3 linked regions of the Homo sapiens genome follow. The protein of the gene in region 2 binds, or shares a complex with, the protein of the main gene of each other region. Each region holds a gene or a part of one and is shown on either strand. Other genes may lie near its edges. The genes, in order: UBE2B, RAD18 and MAGEA4. A codon is read from its position in the direction of its gene.

Region 1 (7,302 bases), on a different chromosome or scaffold from region 2:
TTTTTTTTTTTTTTTTTTTTTTGAGATAGTCTAGCTCTGTCGCCCAGGCTGGACTGCAGTGTCGCTGATCTTGGCTCACTGCAACCTCCTCCTTCCAGGTTTAAGTGATTTTCCTGCCTCAGCCTCCCGAGTAGCTGGGATTACAGGCGTGTGCCACCACGCCCGGATAATTTTGTATTTTTAGTAGAGACGGGGTTTCTACCATGTTGGCCAGGCTGGTCTCGAACTCCCAACATCAGGTGATCCGCCTGCCTCGGCCTCCCAAAGTGCTGGGATTACAGGCGTAAGCCACCGCCCCCGGTCAAGATGGTTCTTAAATCAAAAACTTTTCTTGAACACTTGCCATATGCCTTTTAATTTTTTCCAACTGCTAGTAATCTTTTTTAAAGAAAAAAAACCTCCCTCACCACATGTCAAACTCTAGGAAAGCAAGTAATTCGAAGAGTTCCACCATATACGAAATGATGTACAAGAGCACGGAAATAAAGAGGCCAGTGTCTAACTGCTTAAGTAGACATAGAGTTCAACTGGAATGACAGTCCCTAATGAATAACCACCATATCACTAGACCAAGTGCCTAGGGAGTGCTTTCTTTATTGAATAGGGCTTTCTTTGCTTTCTTCTATAAAATGAGTTAAATGTAAAAAAGCGAAATCTCGCTATGCTTCCGCTAAATAAGAGGAAAGGCATTATTTAATAAATCTAGTCTGGTGGGTCCCACCCAGCATGCATATTTAAATCACACCTGGAGAGCTTTTAGAAAGCATCCCAACCCCCACCTCCACACCCCTGCCCCAATGCCAGAGCACCTGATTTAATTGGGATAGCGTAAATAAATTAGTATTTTTGAAGCTTCTCAAGTTTTTTCTATGCTGCTAGGGTTTATATTGAGAGAAAGGAGAAGTGGTCATCGTTTTCATTGATCACCTAAAATATTCAGAATTGTCTTTTCTTTGAAGGTTATTCAGACGGGCGCAGTGGCTAACGCCTGTAATCCCAGCACTTTGGGAGGCCCAGGCGGGCGGATCACGAGGTCAGGAGATCGAGACCATCCTGGCTAACACGGTGAAACCCCATTTCTACTAAAAAATAGAAAAAATTAGCTGGGCGTGGTGGCGGGCGCCTGTAGTCCCAGCTACTCGGGAGGCGGAGGCAGGAGAATGGCGTGAATCCGGGAGGCGGAGCTTGCAGTGAGCGGAGATCGCACCACTACATTCCAGCCTGGGTGGCAGAGCGAGACTCCATCTCAAAAAAAAAAAAAAAAAAAAAAAGAAAGTTATTCAACCACAATATAAAATACCTTCTATAAATAAGAATGTCATAGTAAATCTTATAGTGGGCTCAAACTTGGTGTAAGCATATTATTTGTTGTGGGCTAAATATTTGCAAGGAGGCTGCGCACAGTGGCTCACACCTGTAATCCCAGGGAGGCCAAGGTGGGCAGATCACTTGAGCCCAGGAGTTCCAGACCAGCCTGGGCAAGAGGGCAAAACTCCATCTCTACAAAAAATTAGCCGGGCATGGTGGTGCACACCTGTGGTCCCAGCTACTTGGGCGTCTGAAGGAGAATTACTGGAGCCCAGAAGGTCAAGGCTGCAGTGAGCCCTGTTCACACCACTGCACTCCAACCTGGGTGACAGAGCAAAACTCTGTCTCAAAAAATAAAAAAATTTGCCCAGGACAAAGATGAACCAAACTGAGTCCCTGCCCTCAATGAACTCATAATCCAGAGCTACAGAACTGATAACAGCATACAGTTAATAGCTTTAAAATTATTCCTTCTACAAGTAGGTTATGGCAGGCCTGGTTAACAAGGACAGCCAGTGATTCTTGCTAATACACAGCTGTAAGACTTTATGATGCACATTCACTGAATCAGTTAAAAGTGTTATATCATTTTGGAAAATAATAAACTGTTTCCAAAACAATTATAAATCCCTGTAGTCTCTGAATTCCTTACCTCTATTGCCTCCAGTTCCCATCTTCAGGACTTCGTTGGTGGGTCAGGAGGACTCTGAGCACTTTTGTATCCATTCGTCAGCTCAACAGGGAAAGAGGGGGTAGGAGGAGGACCTCAGCATTGCCCTAATCTTGCCCATAGTTCCATGGAACCAGAAAGGGTTAACTTTTCCCACTTTCCTTGTACCTCCCTTTCTTCAAACCCTGAATTCTGTCTCTGCTTTCAGTGACTGCCTTGACTGATAAATTACAAGGGTTTTTTTGGTTGTTGCGGGATTTTTTTGAGGCAGGGTCTCAGTGGCATGATGATGGCTCACTGCAGCTTCAACTTCCTCGTCTCAAGCGATTCTTCTGCCTCAGCCTCCTGAGTTGCTGGGACTATTGGTGTGCGCCACCATGCCTGGCTAATTTTACTTTTTGTAGAGACAGGATCTCCTATGTTGCCCAGGCTGGTCTTCAACTCCTGGCCTCCCAAAGTATTAGGATTACAGGCATGAGCTAATGCCCCAGCTCATGAGGGATATTTTTAAGATATAGTTTCTCTTTACCATTTTTCTCCATGTAACCCTACCTGTGTGTCTTCCTCCTTTGCTATTGGAAGGGTTAGGACTGCAATGGCAGAAAGGCAAAAAAATTAAGAATATTCAGCTTTTAACTTAAAAAACACATTGCGAATGTCTAACAGGACCTATCAAGAGTTAGGCCTGGCTAACCTGATCACCAAGGCAGTCACTGGAAGCAGAGAGGGAATTCAGGGTTTGAAGAAAGAGGTACAAGGAAAGTCAGAAAAGTTAACTCTGCTTCCATGGAATCAGGGGCAAGGCTGAGGCAATGTTAAGGTCCTCATTCCACCCTCCCTTTACCTGTTGAACTGAACAGTTCCCCAAATGGATACAAAAGTACTCAGAGTCCTTAGTATAACAAAGTCCTGAAGGTAGGAATTGGAAGCAATAGAGGGAAGGACGGTGACCACAGAAAATATTCAAGGTCTTTGGGAGGTCAACACCTCTGAACCCCCTGGTGGTGGGGGGCCCTTCTGGCCCATTTGCACCTTTCTTGCTAGTGTAGAAAACCTGAAGTTATCTCAGGCTAGATATATAACCCTCACTCATGTCTGCCGGAGCTCTCCCCCAGAATATGAATCATATTTGTAGGTTTCTTTGACAACCAACCACTCATTGATATGCTTGGAAGACTGCACCCCCACATTCCTTAAAAATACAATGGTACTCCCCCACCATAGGCAAGTCCCCGGACTCTGACACATATCTTCAATTGAAAGCAGACCCAGAAAGGAAAAACTGCATAATACACCATCCTTTAATATTTGCCCAGAATTTCCAATACTAGAAACCCCACTGCAAAGCAGAAAGACTATCTGGTAGCTTCAAGGAACCATTTCAGGAGATTGTTGTGTGGGCCTCAGTATTCAAGGCTGCCTTAGAAGATCGTGCGATCCTCTCACTCTTCTTGCCCCAAGTACCAGAGTTAATAAGCCACTGAACCAACCAGAGGGGAATTATTTTTGGTCCCGGTTTAAAGAAAACAAAACAAGCTGTTGATTCTGCCATGACCTCTTGGGTAATGTTGTCTCTATACCTGTGATAAACAGAAAACAACTAATAAAGGTTTATCCCGCCCTCACCCTCTTAAACCCGCTTCACAGACCTGGCTGAAACTCACATCCAGGCGAGGCGCTCACGTGACCCGTTCTAAACGCGTCATAGGGACACGTGGTTCTAGATACTTCTCCCCCTCCCACTCAGGGGTGGATTGTTGACAAGGCCGCGGGCAGTCACGTGATCTTACATCATCCCACCTCCTTTCCCTGAAATCTCTGGCCCGGATGCGTCCCTCTTTCTCCACCCCGCCGAGCCTAAACTAGTGACGGGGAGGGAGACGGGATAGTGTTTCTGTTTCGTGGTCTTTGAATCCACAACCTCTAGTCTGAACACAGAGAACACAAATTTGTCTATTACTTCAGGAAGCCCAGGGGGAACCGCGCCCCGCTGAAGGGCTCGGGGAAGGCGCGCTCCCGCGTCCCGCCCCCTCCTCCCCCAGCACTCACACTGTGGTAGCGGCGGAGGGCGGAGGGATCCGGAGGCGGCGGAGGGAGACGTCATTGCAGGGTTGTTTGTCAGTCTCGGCGGCGGCGGCGGCGGCGGCGGCGGCGGCGATCCACAGTGATTCGGCCGCCGCGCCGGGGGGTGGGGGGGCTGCGCGGGACTTTTTTTTTTTCAGACTGACCGCGGGGCAGCTGCGGAGCATGTCGACCCCGGCCCGGAGGAGGCTCATGCGGGATTTCAAGCGGTAAGGGCCTTCACCTTCGCCTAGATGACGGCCCCTCAAAGCTGCGGGGCTGCAGGGCGTGGATCCCAGACACCTTCCCCTTTGTGACCCTCAGAGGGCCGGCTGTGGGCCCAGCGGGACTGGCGGAAGCCGGGTCCTAGCCTCGGCCCTACTCCCATAAGCTTTGCCGCTCGTTCTGGCGCCCGAAGAAATTTTGATACTGCTTCCCCTCCCCACAAAAAGTAAAACGGTGTCGATCGACTGGTCTAGGGTTCCCTGCTGCCCATTTCGGCCAGCTGCCCGGCGTCTCGCCCAGGCGATCAGACATTATCCGCCCGCCCCTGCACCCTGCGGCGCCCCCTTCTTGTCCCCTCAAAGTGAGCTCCTGCGGGAGCTTGTTCCTCTCCGGCAGCACCAGTCAGCTTTGTTTCACGGCCCCGCCGTCTTCTCCGAGGAGCCGTGTTGGGGCGAACCCCTCTCCCGACTCCTGCCAATCCTTTCCATTTGTGCCCTGAGGGTGGGGTCCAGTGCGTGAGGCCCGGAGGTTAACCCATCCCCCGAAACCCGACTCTGTCCCCGCCCGCCTGAAAGGACCTTGGGAACTGACTTAGAGATCTGGGACCTTAGAGCTGGCCACCCCGGCTGCCAGTGCTTTCTGGAACTCAGCTCTGGCTGGTGAAGAAAGCCCCTATCTATAGCCTCCCGAGTCTGGAAAAATGCCTTCCCTTAGACTGGCGCTAATCTGATACTCCCTGGGCCTCCTTTGGTAAATAAAATAGGGTTTTGTTAGGAGGTATTGGGGTTGTGAGATAGAAAATGATTATTCCGTTGTTTACCTTTTATTGGATACTTAGAGACATAGAAAAAATAAGTGAGAAAACATCATTTTGATACTCTGCACATTTTTCTTAACATTTTTTCTGGGGACACCTGCCCTAATTGAACAAAATATCTAGCATAAAAACTTAGATTTGTCGCTCAGGAAGTCACCTCTCAGCTATTATAAAGCCTATGTGAGGCACTTGGATTTGGCCAACTTATTTAATTCATTCGTAGCTTCTCTTAGCCATTTAAAGGTAGGCGTCAAGCAGTGCAGTTCTTCTAAGGCTTCTGTTCGTGGTGGCCTAATTTGCTTGAGATTGACTAAAAACCATTTTTTTAATGTGGACTAGTTGCAAATTATGATGCCCCATGAAAAACAACTGCATATGTATTTGTGTGTGTATATAATGTAGCATTTTTAATTGAGGTTACAGTCTCTGAAAGGAGATGCCCTTTTTGGTGCAAAAGTCATCTTTCTAAAGCTTGAAATCAGCGTATTTGATTAGCACTCATGACAAATTCAGATAGTAAACTAGTTCATGTCATTGTCGCCCTGGCTCCTTACTGTAATGCTCTGCTTAATTCTGAGTTGAATGCATGGCACCTTTTGTAGTTTCCAGAGATCTGCAGGTTACAAGAATTTGACTATGACGAATGTTGGAAAGCCTTGTGTTGAGTCTCCTGATCTGAGAGGTGGATTTGGTGTTAGTGCAGAGCCTTTAAAATAGGGACTGGCAGAAAACCTACTAATTACTTTTTAAAGCCATTGCTGTTTGAAGCAAAAGGAATAGAGTAAATCTGCTGCCTAATACTAGTTTCCTAGTTAAATTTAATGTGTTTTCAGTCATTTTGTGTTTACACTGAGGTTTGCTTTTTTTTTTTTTCTTGTAGCCATTTTGCAGAAGTAGCCTGGTTAGGATACACAGTCTTTGCATGTTTAGAGCAGCAAAATCAATGGTTCTGTAAAAATATTACTTGCTTTTGAGGTTTTAAACTTTTTTTGGTATAAGAGGACAGTCTATATACATCAATTCTTTTTTTTTAAATATATTTTAATTATACTTTAAGTTCTAGGGTACATGTGCACAACGTGCAGGTTTGTTACATATGTATACACATGTGCCATGTTGGTGTGCTGCACCCATTAACTCGTCACTTGCATTAGGTATATCTCCTAATGGTATCCCTCCTTTCTCCTCCCGCCCCACAACAGGCCCCTGTGTGTGATGTTCCCTTTCCTGTGTCCAAGTGTTCTCATTGTTCAATTCCCACCTATGAGTGAGAACACGTGGTGTTTGGTTTTTTGTCCTTGCGGTAGTTTGCTGAGAATGATGGTTTCCAGCTTCATCCATGTCCCTACAAAGGACATGAACTCATCCTTTTTTATGGCTGCATAGTATTCCATGGTGTATATGTGCCACATTTTCTTAGGCTAGTCTATCATTGTTGGACATTTGGGTTGGTTCCAAGTCTTTGCTATTGTGAGTAGTGCCGCAATAAACATACGTGTGCATGTGTCTTTATAGCAGCATGATTTATATTCCTTTGGGTATATACCCAGTAATGGGATGGCTGGGTCAAATGGTATTTCTAGTTCTAGATCCCTGAGGAATCGCCATACTGTCTTCCACAATGGTTGAACTAGTTTACAGTCCCACCAACAGTGTAAAAGTGTTCCTATGCATCAATTCTTGAAGAGATAATATTGAAAGAGGGATGATTCTCAAGCCCTTTCAATTTTTAGATAATTTGGAGAGGTATTTAATAAGTATATATACCTGGTTAATATATTTAAGTCATATGGTTCATTTTAGTTCACAATAACAAGGAAATGGAGTTAGTCTGTGTCTCAAAATAGATGGTATAGTGTCTGTAGGTGTTTACGTGGCCTCCTTAGTGGCCTTAATGTTCAACTTTTTAAATTACCACGCTGGATTTCCAGGTTACAAGAGGACCCACCTGTGGGTGTCAGTGGCGCACCATCTGAAAACAACATCATGCAGTGGAATGCAGTTATATTTGGGTGAGTTGAAAGGTTTAACAAATAATAGGTGTGTGCTGAATCTTTAAGAAAAGTAAACATATAACAACTGTCTAGGAAAAGAAACTGAGGTGGAATGAGAGATCTTAAGGACTAAAACTGCAAGATAAATTAGAAAAAAAAAATATTTCAATTAGAGTTTTGGCCCAGCACAGTAGTAGCTCAACGCCTGGGAGGATCGCTGGAGCCCA
Region 2 (7,181 bases):
CTGGAGCTTCTGGAGCCATGTTTGCCTCTCATGGGGGGAGCCTGCATGAGCGTTAAGTCGACAGTGAGGGAAGAAGATATAAGGCATTAAGAAAGAGTGATTATGGCCAGGCGCGGTGGCTCACGCCTGTAATCCCAGCACTTTGGAAGGCTGAGGCTGGGAGTTCACGAGGTCAGGAGTTCAAGACCAGCCTAACCAATATGGTGAAACCCCGTCTCTACTAAAAATACACAAGAATTAGTTGGGCATGGTGGCACACGCCTGTTGTCCCAGTAGGGAGGCTGAAGCAGGATAATCGCTTGAACCCAGGAGACAGAGGTTGCAGTGAGCTGAGATTACACCACTGCACTCCAGCATGGGCGACACAGTTAGACTCCGTCTCAAAAAAAAAAAAAAAAAAAGAAGAAAGAGTAATTGAGAGGGAAGAAGAGAGACCACCTGGATCAAGCCATACCTGAATACCTACCTCAGGTCTTTTCAGTTACATGAGCTAACACACTGCCTTTCTTGCTTAGGCCATTTTGAGTTAGCTTTCTAATTCAGCACTTTGAACCAAAAAGTCCTAATACAGTTCCCTCCCTTAAAAGTTCTTCCTGTCTGATCTCAAAGCTCTTCCCATCTGCAGACCTTGACTTGGACTGGGCATTCCTCTGTCTAGTGTACTTGTCACCTCTGCTTGGGCATATAGTAGGTGCTCAGCAAACACTTGTTTGAAGGATCAATAGGAGGGGTTGGGACTCCTCCTAAGAAGAGGCTTTGGTGACAGACAGGTAGCTGGCCTCAGTGAGAAGCTCCCAGAGGTGATGGTGGTCTGACAGGCAGGTGGACGGGGTAATGGGCACAGTCTGTAAGTGTAAACAAGACCTAGCTGTCCCAGGGCTGGGAGGGAGAGAATAAGGCAGGGTCCATGTCTGGGAGGAGTCAAGATAGGGGCCTGGTCACAAGGACACAGCAGGGCCTGCTTCCTAGAACTGGGGTCCACAGTAAGTGTGAGGTCCACAGCACTTTTACCTCACCCGGACTGTGCCACCAAGGTTCAGTCCCTGTCACCTTCTTCTACTGTACACTTTCCACTTTGATCCCTTCTTCACCCAGCAGCTAGAATGACCTTTGGAAAATGTAAATTACACCCCTGCCTAAAGCCTCTAAGGACTTCCCCCCTGTGCTTATAGCAACATAATATTAATGACAGCTGACACTCACACAGGGCTTAGTAGTTGCCAGGCACCCTTCTAGGCATTAAACCTAGAATAACTCCTTTAATTATCCCTACAAGGCAAATACTAATATTATCCCCATTTTGCAGATGAGAAAATTGAGGCACAGAGAGGTCAACAACTTACCCAAGTTAACATGGATTAAAATCTGAACTTTTTACTAAGGCATGGAACTCTCCACTTCTGGGGTCTTTGGGTCTTTGCATGGCTGCCTCTCTCTATCAGTTGGGTCTCTGCCCATATATCACTTCCTCAGAGGGAGCCTCCCAGATCATACAATTTACAGTGTCCCCTCCTCTGTCCATTTTATCACCCTTTTTTATTGTTTTTACATCAGTTACTGTTTTATGCAATTATCTTACTCATTTTTTTACAAACTCTCTTTTTTTTTATCCTGGCTCCATGCTCACCCCCAGGCTGCCAGCTCCTGGAGAACAGAGGCCATATCTGTCTTACTCACCTCTGTATTCTAGCACCTGGTACAAGTGGAGAGTGGCTCAATAAACATTTGTTAAAATGAATGGAGGAAGGGAGAGATGGAGGCAGGGAGGAAGGAAGAAAAAAAATAAGGAAGGAAGGAAGGAAAGAAGGAACGAAGGAAGGGAGGAAGAAAGGAAGGAAGGAAAGGGAGGGAGGGAGCTCCTTTAATATCCCCTCTCCCATAACTAGAATGAGGAAGATGGGGCCTAGAGGAAGAGAGAGTGCTGGGCAGAGAGGAACAGGATGAAGAGAACCTGGAAAGGAGCTCAGGGGCCACAGGACATCCCCAGGTTAATCCAGGGCAGGCCCCACACTCAGTTGGGAGAATGCTTCTCTAATTAGGGTTGTCAGATTTGGCAAATAAAAATACAGGATGCCCAGTTAAATATTTGAATTTCTGGTTAAACAACAAATAATTGGTTAATAGGTTGTGTGCAATATTTGGGGCAGGTTTACACTAAAATGTTGTGTGCGGTTCATCTGAAATTCAGATTTACTGGGCAACTTGTATTTTATCTGGCCATCCTATTCTGGCTTCTCGCTGTGTGCTATGTGCCACAGAAGATTCCACTAAACACTAGCCTGCTTTTATTTTACATGGAACATTTTGTTTTTAGTCCTGAATAAGGAAGTACAATCTCTTTATTGATCTAACAGAAGGAGAAAGTCCATACAAACAGCAGCTTGTTAAGAGGAGAATGGCTCCCAGGGTTAGATAAACACCCAAGACAAACGCCTTTTCCTGAGCTCAAAGTGCGCTTGTTCTTGAACTTTCCTTCCTGGGCCTAGAGGTGGGCTTGATGGGATCTATCACCCTGGTGCTGCTGAAGATGGCAGGAAGAGAAATGCTCAGCCTGGGAGGAAAAGATTTATGGGAATGTGGGCTTAGTCGGTGATTCATCCATTCATTCAGCCTCACCCACCAGCTATTGGCAGACACTCAGAGATGAATGGCACCGCATCCTGTCCTGGAGGCTCTCCATAGATAGGGAAATGTATTTTGGCCCCAGGACTAACAAGTACTGCCTCCTTCCAAATCTGTCTCCATGGTTGAATGCAAAAAGTACATTCCTGTCCCTGTCTTTTCTCTCTCTCCCTTTCTCCTTACCCATTCTTTCTCTTTTTTCTCATCTCCTCTCTCTTCCTCTCTCACCTTCCCAGCCATTTGTCACCTTAAACCTAATTACCTTGTCCAACTAGTAGTGTGAAAAAAACAATTACTGGTTCACTCAGGCCACGGACCTGGTCTTAAATGCTTTTCCTTTGTCTCTCCAAGACCCCACTTCCTCCACATCCAGAACTATCCGACATTTTCCAGCTCAGCCTGGCATTCATTTGCGTTCATTTGCATGCCGTTCTATGATTGGCTGATACAAAGTGGGGGGCGGGGGTGGACACCGTAAACCTCCATTCCTCATGCATTTAATATAACATGTATGAAAAAAAGTATCTATATTTATATCTCGTTTAAGAAAAAAATTGTTCAATGATACTTGTTAAAGCACAATAAGGAAGACTTAATCAGGACAATTCAAGTAGGTATAGAGACCACTGGAACTGTGTCTTGCAATTGGTGAAAACTGGGCTCAACTCTGAATACAACATGGGCAAATGGAAATTTATAGCCAGGAAGCAGGGTGGGGAGCAGTGCATGAAAAATTACTAAGAGGAAACATCAGAGGTAACAGTAGATTCTTGCTGAAGAGGCCAGGGTGATCAGACATCAACTGGGGGATGGTGGAGGATGAGGAACACATCAGATATCAAGAGTGATCACATATCAAAGGTGGGGATTCTTGGTAACTTGATTTAGCAGGGTTTTTTGCTAAAACTGGATTTTTACAGGAAGTACACAGATTGGCCTAGGAGAAGGTTCAGGAGCCTGACTAAAGTTTGCTCAAGCAAAGAATCTTCGTCAATCTGCATAGGAAATATCTAGAAGGCTATATGCCAAAGTTAATGGTGCTTCTCTCCGAAGAAAAAGAAAAACCGTGCATTAAAATTTTAATATGAATAAAAGCAACAGCTCCCATTTAAAGCCCAGAGGTCCTGTTTGGAATCTGACTCGAAACTCTATCCACTTTTTCGGGCGTAGGCTTCTCTTGTGTAAACTGACAATGATAACATCTACCTCCCAGTGTTGTGATACGGGAGACATAAAGTAATGGATATAAAAACTTCTGTTCAGAGCAAGGACGGATAGTCACTGCGATTAGGGTGGGCGACCCGGAGGGGGGTCATGAGCCTGGACCTTGACAGATCTGGTGAGGTCTGGATTTGGTTTGATTCCTGGCTATCTTTTCTTAATATTCAACTGGCTCTACGCTTTTTAACCATTCACTTTCTTCAAGGTAAGTGCGGCAGAAGCCTGGCGCATGCGCAGTACAAGCCCTTAAGCGGCGCCCCGCCCACATACTACTACAACTTCCGGCAGGCTCCGCGCCCGCCTCTGGCGCGTCGCGGGCTGCTGACGTAATGCGGTAGCGCGGGGAATTTCGAGTGGTGTTGGAGCGCCGGAGGCTAGTGGGTGGCTGACCCCCAGCATCCTCGGGAGCGACCATGGACTCCCTGGCCGAGTCTCGGTGGCCTCCGGGCCTGGCAGTCATGAAGGTGAGTGCTTCGGGGAGTTTGGGAGCTCCCGGGTGTCTGCGGGGGGAGGTCCCTCCCTTTGAGGAGGATGTCCTCGCCTTAAGGAGAAAGGATGAGGCGCGAGCGTCGCACTGGGCCCGGGTATCCGGCTCTGCCCTGCCACTAGCCGACCGCGTGGCTCTGGGTCTCAGTTTACTCCTCTGATAAGTGACAAGGACAAGCCTGGTGAGCTGAGGTTGGCAGTCTTATGGCACCAGCTATTCTGCGATCCAATCCCAACAATAACATGGAGAAAAACAGTTATTCCAAACAATGACATCGACAGCTGTTCTTTACTGAAAGCTTACTTTGTGTCAAGCACTAAACAGTGACACCGGACATGATTTTGGGTGGACACTTTATCAGATAACATGTATGTAATCACGTAGCCAAGCAGGTAGTCTCCTTTACAGGCTCTTTCATTTCTTCTGATTATTCTCAATAAACGTAGTGCTCGTTTGTTCTGACATACTGCCCCAACTCCTCTCTAACACACCTTCACTCTTCTCTAACAATTGCTCATGTCTCTTAAACAGAGATCAGGACTCAGGCTCAGCGCTGATCTTGCATTGCGTCTGATTATTTCACTTAAATAACATTTATTTTTGTGGCCACTTTCTGTTTTGGCAAGGCATACCAGTTTCCATTTACAGTAGTGGTGGGCCCTGGATTTGCTCAAGAGCAGATGCACTTTGCTGTGCTGGATAAAGATCAGTTGCTTGGTGTTTCTTCTTGCTCTGTGATTATTTCCGTTTCTCACAGTGGCTAAGATAGCCTTCTTCTCCCTCAGTTTTGTAGACTTGGGGATTATAATACCTGTCCCACTGACTCATAAATTTGACTTTAGAATTAAGTGAAGGCTAAAGTAAGTAGAAGGCCTTGTTCTTCCTGCTGTCATCAGTGACGTCTAGAGTGCTTGGGGACTTGAGATATCTGCATGATGAGAAGCTGACATTGTGAAATGATCCAGGAAAGCTGTAGTTTTGGAGTTGTGGGCTTGGCACCAGGATGCAGTGGAGAAGAGCACAGATTTGAGTTCCAGTGGTCCTGGGTGAAATCTCCTGTCTGCCTCTTGACTGTATGACCTTCGGTTAGTAACTTAACCTCTCTGAGCCTGAATTTCTTCAACTATAAATTAGAGACAAAAATAACAGTTCATAGGATTGATTAAATAAATTAGTTGATGTATGTGGGCACAGATTCTGCTGTGTATTCACTGTGCTTACTGCAGTGCCTGACACCAAGTGGGTGCTCAAATATTATTTGCTGCTTGATTGAAAGTATCTGGAATGTAGTAAGCATTCAATGAATATATTTTATTATTATTAGCACTGTGTTAAGTGCTTCTTTCCCCTTTTAATTTGTTGTCATGAAGCTTGACTTGGATAAGGAAAGTAAAAGAGCTCTGTAACCTGTAAAGCTCCTGCTTTGTAGATTTAAGCACACTTTACATATTCCCACAATTTCAGTGTTCTTTAGAGGCGGGTTCCATGTCTTCTCTGACTTTGGTATCTCACCACAGCACTGAATGTAGAGTTTGGCACCACAGAGCGTTCAGTGAGTGTTCAACCAGAGAGTTGATTGAGCCCGTATTTTTTTGCTCACATTGGAATCATGGAATCTTAAGGTTAGAAAACCAGCCCCTTTCAGTATTTTAATCTCCTTTATAACACATCTGCCAATTTCTCACCTAATTTTTGCTTGAACTCTTCCAGGCACAAAGAACTATCAGATCCCAGAAGCAGATCTGACTGAAGTTACTTCTTTTATTGAATAGAAGTCTGACTCAGAATCCATGGTTGCTAACTTAGGATTCACAGAAAGACTTTGGAGTCTCAAGTTATTTGTAAAATTTTTGCATGTATGTTTTTCTGAGCAGAGAGTCCATAGTTGTCATCCATTTTTCAAAGGGATCTGTAACCCCAAAAACTTAAGAGTATTTTTGTAATTATTACGTTTTTCCACCCATTTTCTACTTCTCCCTTTCACTTTCTCTCTCTCTAAACTAAAGAAATTTTGGGGAGTCTGCTGACCACTCTCTATTCAGGCATCATTTTTTGTTTAGTTGGTTGAGGCGCATGTGATATGCATGTTACTGTCTTGGAGTGACATGACAAGAAATTTGAACCAGAAATGGCTCATCTGATGTAGTGTCAACTTCCACAATTGTGCTCTGCAGATCTTTCAGAATCATTCCTCCACCAGAAGAGGATGGCATAGATAAGAAAGTGTGATATAATAGACTGGTTCTGGCTTCTGGGCCTGCCTCTGCTCTTAATTGATCTTGAACATAACCCTTTAGATTTTTGTGTCTGTGACAGCTTACCATCCACAATAATGGAAGATTTTGGCATTTTATTATTTCCCTGGTTTTACTTTAACAAAAATTTACTGTTTTTGGCATATTGTAAATGTAATATGTGTACACGGTAGAAAAAAATTAAAATTCAGAATAAGATAAAGGAGAAAAATAAAACCATCCATAATTCTACCACCCAGAGAACCAGTGTTTAACATTTTACCTTATTTTCCTTTGGTTTTTGTGCATTTAAAATTTGGGATCACTGTGGAGTCAACTTCTTGGGTTTGATCCAGCCAACTTAGGAACTCTGTAGACTTTATTTTTAAAATTGGGATACTGATGCTGTGGACTTCATAAGATTGCTATGAAGATTAAACTACAGAGTTGTTATTATTATGTATTATTGGCATAGGTTTGTTTTCTGATTTTTATTTTCCTAGGGCATTAATTATTCTTTGAAAGCATGTTTTTTAATGGCTGCATAATATTTCATCATATGGACCATTAGCGACATTAGTCCTTTTTTGTTTACATTTTTAAAATTCAGGTAATAG
Region 3 (7,104 bases), on a different chromosome or scaffold from region 2:
GTGTCCTGGATGCGGAGCCTGCTTGGTCCTCACCTCAACTCCTGGCAGAGCCTGGGACCCTCCCTCTACTGACCTGGGTGCAGCCCCCTCAGACCAAGGCCTCCCACTCCGTGACACCAGTGATCCCAGGATAAGAGAGGGACCTCAGCAGAAAGCCAAGCCCATGCTCTCTGGGGTGACAACAGGAGCAGGGCTGATTTCTGTGGGGTCATCATCTGCGTTCTGGCCCTGTGGTACCCTCAATCCTCCCTCACATTCCTCACCAGGACTCTTGGCAGATCCTGGGACCACTGTGTCTGTAGACCAGATGGGGGTCCCTGTGGTGACCTGAGTCACCCTCTGAGAACAAGGTCCTCACCTCACTGAGATCTGGAATCAGAAATGAGAAGGAGCCACATCCTGTCACCCCTGTGTGGGGTGCCCAGGGCTGACCCCTTTGGTTCTGGGGTGAGGGTTCTGATGGCCTCCTGTGGGGTACTCATGTTTGCTCCTGACAGGGCCTGCCCTTCCTCAACCCCCAACCCCCTGAGATGAGCAAACATTGCCCCTTTACTCCAAAACCTCATCTCCCTGAAGGTTCCCCAACTTCCTGCCTGTGGAACAAGTGAAATTGGCACATAGGGCCATCCCTCCTCTGGTCCCCCCTGAGCTAAGAACAGGGGACAGCCAGACTCTGTGGGGTCCCGTCTTTCTGAGCCACAGGTATCCCCATTCCTCGTGAAGTGTGGCACACCTTGGGTCCTGTAGATCCTGGGACTCCTCCCTCTGCGGACCTGAAGTACCACCCCTCAGACCATAGCCCTCTCCTCTCTGTGACCTCGAAGATGCAGGAAGTATGAGCTACAGGTGGCTACCTTGCCCAGGACCTCCCAGGGCCCAGGTCTCCACTGATCTGGAATGCAAGGCCCCCTGAATCCTCCCTCGTCTTCCTTTCCTTGATCCTGGAAGGGCTTGGAACCCACCCCTCTGCTGACCTGAGTTGCCATCCCTTGGATTCCTGAGGCTAAAAGAGGAGGCACCTCATTCTCAGACGGGGTGGGGTGGGCTCCCTGCCTTGGGGTGCTGGGTCTCCTGAGGCCTTCCTCATCTCCCAGGAGGGCCAGGGTCCTCCCTCTGCTACCCTGAGGCTCTGCTCATGATACCAAACCCTCTCCCTCCTTCAGCCCTCGATGTGGATGTCAAGATCCGAGTGCCTGACCATTCCCAGGTCTTCCCGGGGTTGACTGCAGGGGAAAAAATGGATTCTGCAAAACGGAGTTGGGGATGGGGCTGGGCATGTTGGAATGCGGATGGGGTGGGGGTGTAGCGCCCTCAGTTCCCTCTCAAGGTCCTGACCCCGATGCCAGGCAGAGCCTGGGCCCTGCCTTGGGCACACCAAGCTCTTGACTCTAGAGTCCCCTGTAGCTTTAGTGGCAGTGGGAGCTGGGATGGCCTAGCCTGAGAAGTCTTCCCCCGGGTGGTCCAGGACTGGCAGCAGGAGCTGCGCTGGATTATTTGGGTTCCTCTATCTTGGGTGGGGGCCTCCTCAGTCCTTCCTCAGAGTCTCACCTTGCCTCGCCACAGAGCTTGGGCCCGCTCCCCTCAGCCGATCTCAACTGGCCCCTCAGGACTATGCCCTTGATTCTCTGACCCCCAAAAAACATCCCAGCACCAAGCCTGGGGTTTCCCTGGATTGATAGCAGAAGGGGAACTGGATTCTGCCTGGTGAGGGTGGAGGGCAAGGAATGGGAAATGGAGCAGCGAAATGGCAGCGGATTTGTGGGAGTGGGGGTTAGACTAGGATCTTGGGGGACCTCAGTTCCCTCTCAGGTTTCTGACTTTGATTCCTGGCAGGGCCTGGGCCATGCCCTCTCCTAACCAGCCCTTCCCTGATCACACCAACCTCTGACTCCAGAGTCCCCTGTGGCTTAAACAAACGCGTTGCGAAGGGGGCGGAGGTGGGGAGCAGCCCAGTCTGAGAAGTCAGCCTCCGCGGGGTAGTCCAGGGCTGGGACCCTCTATCAGGGATAGGGGTTTCCTGAATCCTCCCTCAGAGTCTCACTTTGCCTCTTCACAAAGCCTGGGCCACCTTCCCTCTGCCGATCTCAAGCCACCCTTCAGACCCAGAAACTCACTTCTCTCTAACCCTCAATTCACAAGTCAGTGGCATCACATCCGGCCACCCAGGGCTTGCCTGGATTGAAAGCAGGGGTGGAACCGGATGCTGCGCTGATGGGGATGAAGGTAGGGGTGGGGGAGGGGGGTATGAGGCTGGTTGGGGGGTTGGGGAGGATAGGGGCACAGGTGGGGAATGGGGGTACAGATGGGGTAGGGAGTGCAGATGGGAAAGGGGTAGGGGATAGGAATGGGGGTGGGGGACACTCAGCCCTCTCCTAGGGTCCTGACGTTGATGCCTGGCAGAGCCTACCCCCACCAGTCCTGCACTGATCACACCAAGCTCTGACTCCATAGTCCCCTGCGGCTTCAGCGGCAGTGGGGTGGTGGGCGTCCCAGACTCAGAAGTCCGCCCACGGGTGGCCCAGGACTGGAAGCAGGAGGGGTGCCGGATTATTTGGGGTCGTCTATCTGGGGTGGAGAGGGCCTCCCGACTTCTCCCTCAGCTTCTCACTATGCCACCTCACAGAGCCTGGACCGGCTTCCCTCTGCCAATCCCAAGCTGCCTGTCAGACTGAGAAGCTAGCGTCTCTCTAACCCCCAATGCACAAGTCACTGGCATCACATCCAGGAACCTGGAGCTTCCCTGGGTTGAAAGCAGAAACGGAATGCGATTCAACCTGGATGGGGATAGTGGTGTTGGGGTGGGGGATGAGGACATAAGGGTAGTGGGGGTTTGGGGAGGATAGGGGTGCTGGTGGGGGATAGGGTGTAGATGGGGTTGGGAGTGTGGATGGGAATGGGAAGGGGGATGGGAATGGGGGTGGGGGACCCTCGGCCCTCTCTTACAGTCCTGAGGTTGATGCCTGGCAGAGCCTGCCCTCACCAGTCTTGCACTGATCACCCCAAGCTCTGACTGCAGAGTCCCGTGCGACTTCAGAGGCAGTGGGGTGGTGGGCGCCCCAGACTCAGAAGTCCCCCCACGAGTGGCCCAGGGCTGGGAGCATGAGTGGTTCGGGATTATTTGGGATTGTCTATCTGCGGTGGGGGCCTCCTGAGTCCTCCCTCAGCGTCTCACCTTGACTCCTCACAGGGCCTGGCCCGCTTCCCTCCACCAGTCCCAAGCTGCTGGTCAGACAGAGCAGCTCGCTTTTCTCTAACCCCCAATGCGCAAGTCAGTGGCATCACATTCCGGCACCTGCGGCTTTCTTGGGTTGAAAGCGGAAGCAGAACCCGATTCAGCGTGGATGGGGGTGGGAGGAGTGAGGTCGGTGGAGGGGGCGCGTTTTGGGGGTGGGTTGAAAGCGGAAGCAGAACCTGATTCAGTGTGGATGGGGGTGGGAGAGGTGAGGTTGGTGGAGGGGCCCGGGTTTTGGGGTGGGAGATGGTGGTGTGAGAGAGGTGCGGGGTTGAGGAGGATAGGAGCCTGGTGGGGGATGGGGGCGCGGATGGGTTTGGGAGTGCAAATAGTAATGGGAAAGGGGAGGGGGTGGGGGATGGGAATGGGGGTGGGGTACGCTTAGCCCTCTCTTAGGGTCCTGAGGTTGATGCCTCGTAGAGCCTGCCCTCACTAGTCTTACACTAACCACCCCAAGCTCGGACTCCAGAGTCCCATGTGACTTCAGACGCAGTGGGGTGGAGGGCGCCCCAGACTCAGAAGTCAGCCCACGGGTGGCCCACGGCTGGTAGCAGGAGTGGTGCGGGATTATTTGGGGTCGTCTATCTGGGGTGGGGGCCTCCTGAGTCCTCCCTCAGCGTCTCACCTTGACTCCTCACAGGGCCTGGCCCGCTTCCCTCCACCAATCCCAAGCGGCTGGTCACAGAGCAGCTCGCTTCTCTCTAACCCCGAATGCGCAAGTCAGTGGCATCACATCCGGGCCCCTGGGGCTTTCTTGGGTTGAAAGAGAAACCAGAAATCAGATTCAGCGTGGATGGGGGTGGGAAGGGTGAGGTCGGTGGAGGGGGCGGGTTTTTGGGGGTGGGTTGAAAGCGGAAGCGGAACGTGATTCAGTGTGGATGGGGGTGGGAGGGGTGAGGTTGGTACAAGGGCCCGGGTTGTTGGGGTGGGAGATGGCGGTATGAGAGAGGTGGGGGGTTGAAGAGGAGAGGAGTGCTGGTGGGGGATGGGGCGTGGATGGTTTGGGAGTGCAAATGGTAATGGGAAAGGGGACGTGGTGGGGGATGGGAATAGGGGTGGGGTACGCTTAGCCCTCTCTTAGGGTCCTGAGATTGATGCCCGGCAGAGCCTGGCCTCACTAGTCTTACACTAAACACCCCAAGCTCTGACTCCAGAGTCCCATGCGACTTCAGAGGCAGTGGGGTGGTGGGCGCCCCAAGCTCAGAAGTCCGCCCACAGGTGGCCCACGGCAGGTAGGAGTGGTGCGGGATTATTTGGGGTCGTCTATCTGGGGTGGTGGCCTCCTGAGTCCTCCTCAGCGTCTCACCTTGACTCCTCACAGGGCCTGGCCTGCTTCCTTCCACCAATCCCAAGCTGCTGGTCAGACAGCAGCTCGCTTCTCTCTAACCCCCAATGCGCAAGTCAGTGGCATCACATCCGGGCCCCTGAGGCTTTCTTGGGTTGAAAGCGGAAGCGGAAACACGATTCAGCGTGGATGGGGGTGGGGGGGAGGTCGGTGGAGGGGGCGGGTTTTTGGGAGTGGGTTGAAAGCGGAAGCGGAACCCGATTCAGCGTGGATGGGGGTGGGAGGGGTGAGGTTGGTGGAGGGGCCCCGGTTTTTGGGGTGGCAGATGGCGGTATGACAGAGGTGGGGGGTCGAGGAGGAGTGCTGGTGGGGGATGGGGGCGGGGATGGGTTTAGGAGTGCAAATGGTAATGGGAAAGGGGACGTGGTGGGGGATGGGAATAGGGGTGGGGTACGCTTAGCCCTCTCTTAGGGTCCTGAGATTGATGCCCGGCAGAGCCTGGCCTCACTAGTCTTACACTAAACACCCCAAGCTCTGACTCCAGAGTCCCCTGCGACTTCAGAGGCAGTGGGGTGGTGGGCGCCCCAAGCTCAGAAGTCCGCCCACAGGTGGCCCACGGCTGGTAGGAGTGGTGCGGGATTATTTGGGGTCTTCTATCTGGGGTGGTGGCCTCCTGAGTCCTCCTCAGCGTCTCACCTTGACTCCTCACAGGGCCTGGCCTGCTTCCTTCCACCAATCCCAAGCTGCTGGTCAGACAGCAGCTCGCTTCTCTCTAACCCCCAATGCGCAAGTCAGTGGCATCACATCCGGGCCCCTGAGGCTTTCTTGGGTTGAAAGCGGAAGCGGAAACACGATTCAGCGTGGATGGGGGTGGGGGGGAGGTCGGTGGAGGGGGCGGGTTTTTGGGAGTGGGTTGAAAGCGGAAGCGGAACCCGATTCAGCGTGGATGGGGGTGGGAGGGGTGAGGTTGGTGGAGGGGCCCCGGTTTTTGGGGTGGCAGATGGCGGTATGACAGAGGTGGGGGGTCGAGGAGGAGTGCTGGTGGGGGATGGGGGCGCGGATGGGTTTAGGAGTGCAAATGGTAATGGGAAAGGGGACGTGATGGGGGATGGGAATAGGGGTGGGGTACGCTTAGCCCTCTCTTACGGTCCTGAGATTGATGCCTGGCAGAGCCTGGCCTCACTAGTCTTACACTAAACACCCTAAGCTCTGACTCCAGAGTCCTCTGCGACTTCAGAGGCAGTGGGGTGGTGGGCGCCCCAGACTCAGAAGTCCGCCCACAGGTGGCCCACGGCTGGTAGCAGGAGTGGTGCGGGATTATTTGGGGTCGTCTATCTGGGGTGGGGGCCTCCTGAGTCCTCCCTCAGCATCTCACCTTGACTCCTCACAGGGCCTGGCCCGCTTCCCTCCGCCAATCCCAAGCGGCTGGTCAGAGCAGCTCGCTTCTCTCTAACCCCCAATGCGCAAGTCAGTGGCATCACATCCGGGCACCTGGGACTTTCTTGGGTTGAAAGCGGAAGCGGAAACCCGATTCAGCGTGGAAGGGGGTGGGAGGGGTGAGGTCGGTGGAGGGGGCGGGTTTTTGGGGGTGGGTTGAAAGCGGAAGCGCAACCCAATTCAGCATCCATGGGGGTGGGAGGGGTGAGGTTGGTGGAGGGGCCCCAGTTTTTGGGGTGGGAGATGGCGGTGTGAGAGAGGTGCGGGGTTGAGGATAGGAGTGCTGGTGGGGGATAGGGGCGCGGATGGGTTTGGGAGTGCAAATAGTAATGGGAAAGGGGAGGCGGTGGGGGATAGAAATAGGGGTGGGGTACGCTTGGCCCTCTCTTAGGGTCCTGAGGTTGATGCCTCGTAGAGCCTGCCCTCACTAGTCTTACACTAACCACCCCAAGCTCGGACTCCAGAGTCCCATGCGACTTCAGACGCAGTGGGGTGGAGGGCGCCCCAGACTCAGAAGTCCGCCCACGGGTGGCCCACGGCTGGTAGCAGGAGTGGTGCGGGATTATTTGGGGTCGTCTATCTGGGGTGGGGGCCTCCTGAGTCCTCCCTCAGCGTCTCACCTTGACTCCTCACAGGGCCTGGCCCGCTTCCCTCCGCCAATCCCAAGCTGCTGGTCAGACAGAGCAGCTCGCTTCTCTCTAACCCCCAATGCGCAAGTCAGTGGCATCACATCCGGGCCCCTGGGGCTTTCTTGGGTTGAAAGAGGAAGCGGAAATCAGATTCAGCGTGGATGGGGGTGGGAGGGGTGAGGTCGATGGAGGGGGCGGGTTTTTGGGGGTGGGTTGAAAGCGGAAGCGGAACGTGATTCAGTGTGGATGGGGGTGGGAGGGGTGAGGTTGGTACAAGGGCCCGGGTTGTTGGGGTGGGAGATGGCGATATGAGAGAGGTGGGGGGTTGAAGAGGAGAGGAGTGCTGGTGGGGGATGGGGCGTGGATGGTTTGGGAGTGCAAATGGTAATGGGAAAGGGGACGTGGTGGGGGATGGGAATAGGGGTGGGGTACGCTTAGCCCTCTCTTAGGGTCCTGAGATTGATGCCCGGCAGAGCCTGGCCTCACTAGTCTTACACTAAACACCCCAAGCTCTGACTCCA

What was found.
Region 1: the proteins of RAD18 (region 2) and UBE2B are in contact, whole or in part, in a crystal structure (PDB 2YBF), measured with the Homo sapiens proteins. Residues at the interface, in NP_064550.3 of Homo sapiens: Tyr342, Arg343, Lys344, Lys345, His346, Lys347, Glu349, Phe350, Leu353, Val354, Gln356, Ala357, Arg358, Lys359, Gly360, Tyr361; in NP_003328.1 of Homo sapiens: Pro20 (codon at 7,026), Val22 (codon at 7,032), Gly23 (codon at 7,035), Val24 (codon at 7,038), Ser25 (codon at 7,041), Gly26 (codon at 7,044), Ala27 (codon at 7,047), Ser29 (codon at 7,053), Glu30 (codon at 7,056), Gln35 (codon at 7,071), Asn37 (codon at 7,077), Ala38 (codon at 7,080), Val39 (codon at 7,083), Phe41 (codon at 7,089), Gly42, Pro43, Glu44, Glu49, Asp50, Lys54, Leu55, Val56, Leu73, Ser74, Asp151, Ser152.
Region 3: the proteins of RAD18 (region 2) and MAGEA4 are in contact, whole or in part, in a crystal structure (PDB 9BD3), measured with the Homo sapiens proteins. Residues at the interface, in NP_064550.3 of Homo sapiens: Ser348, Phe350, Gln351, Leu353, Val354, Gln356, Ala357, Arg358, Lys359, Gly360, Tyr361, Lys362, Lys363, Ile364, Ala365; in NP_001011548.1 of Homo sapiens: Ser111, Val114, Asp115, Ala118, His119, Ser158, Lys160, Met161, Ile162, Ile204, Ile205, Gly208, Thr209, Met212, Glu224, Glu225, Val228, Met229, Gly230, His237, Val239, Tyr240, His290, Val291, Val294, Asn295, Arg297, Arg299.

Annotation. Positions count from the first base shown.
Region 1 is NC_000005.10:134,367,371-134,374,672, forward strand, and holds the start of UBE2B (ubiquitin-conjugating enzyme E2 B), read left to right. Parts: upstream 1-4,225; coding exon 4,226-4,269; intron 4,270-7,012; coding exon 7,013-7,093; intron 7,094-7,302. UniProt on the Homo sapiens protein: E2 ubiquitin-conjugating enzyme that accepts ubiquitin from the ubiquitin-activating enzyme E1 and transfers it to a E3 ubiquitin-protein ligase. In vitro catalyzes 'Lys-11'-, as well as 'Lys-48'- and 'Lys-63'-linked polyubiquitination.
Region 2 is NC_000003.12:8,960,461-8,967,641, reverse strand, and holds the start of RAD18 (E3 ubiquitin-protein ligase RAD18), read left to right. Parts: upstream 1-4,169; 5' UTR 4,170-4,256; coding exon 4,257-4,307; intron 4,308-7,181. UniProt on the Homo sapiens protein: E3 ubiquitin-protein ligase involved in postreplication repair of UV-damaged DNA. Postreplication repair functions in gap-filling of a daughter strand on replication of damaged DNA.
Region 3 is NC_000023.11:151,915,791-151,922,894, reverse strand, and holds part of MAGEA4 (melanoma-associated antigen 4), read right to left. Parts: intron 6,659-7,104; exon of another isoform or gene 6,575-6,658; intron 5,971-6,574; exon of another isoform or gene 5,893-5,970; intron 4,608-5,892; exon of another isoform or gene 4,539-4,607; intron 3,986-4,538; exon of another isoform or gene 3,858-3,985; intron 3,303-3,857; exon of another isoform or gene 3,173-3,302; intron 370-3,172; exon of another isoform or gene 264-369; intron 1-263. UniProt on the Homo sapiens protein: Regulates cell proliferation through the inhibition of cell cycle arrest at the G1 phase. Also negatively regulates p53-mediated apoptosis.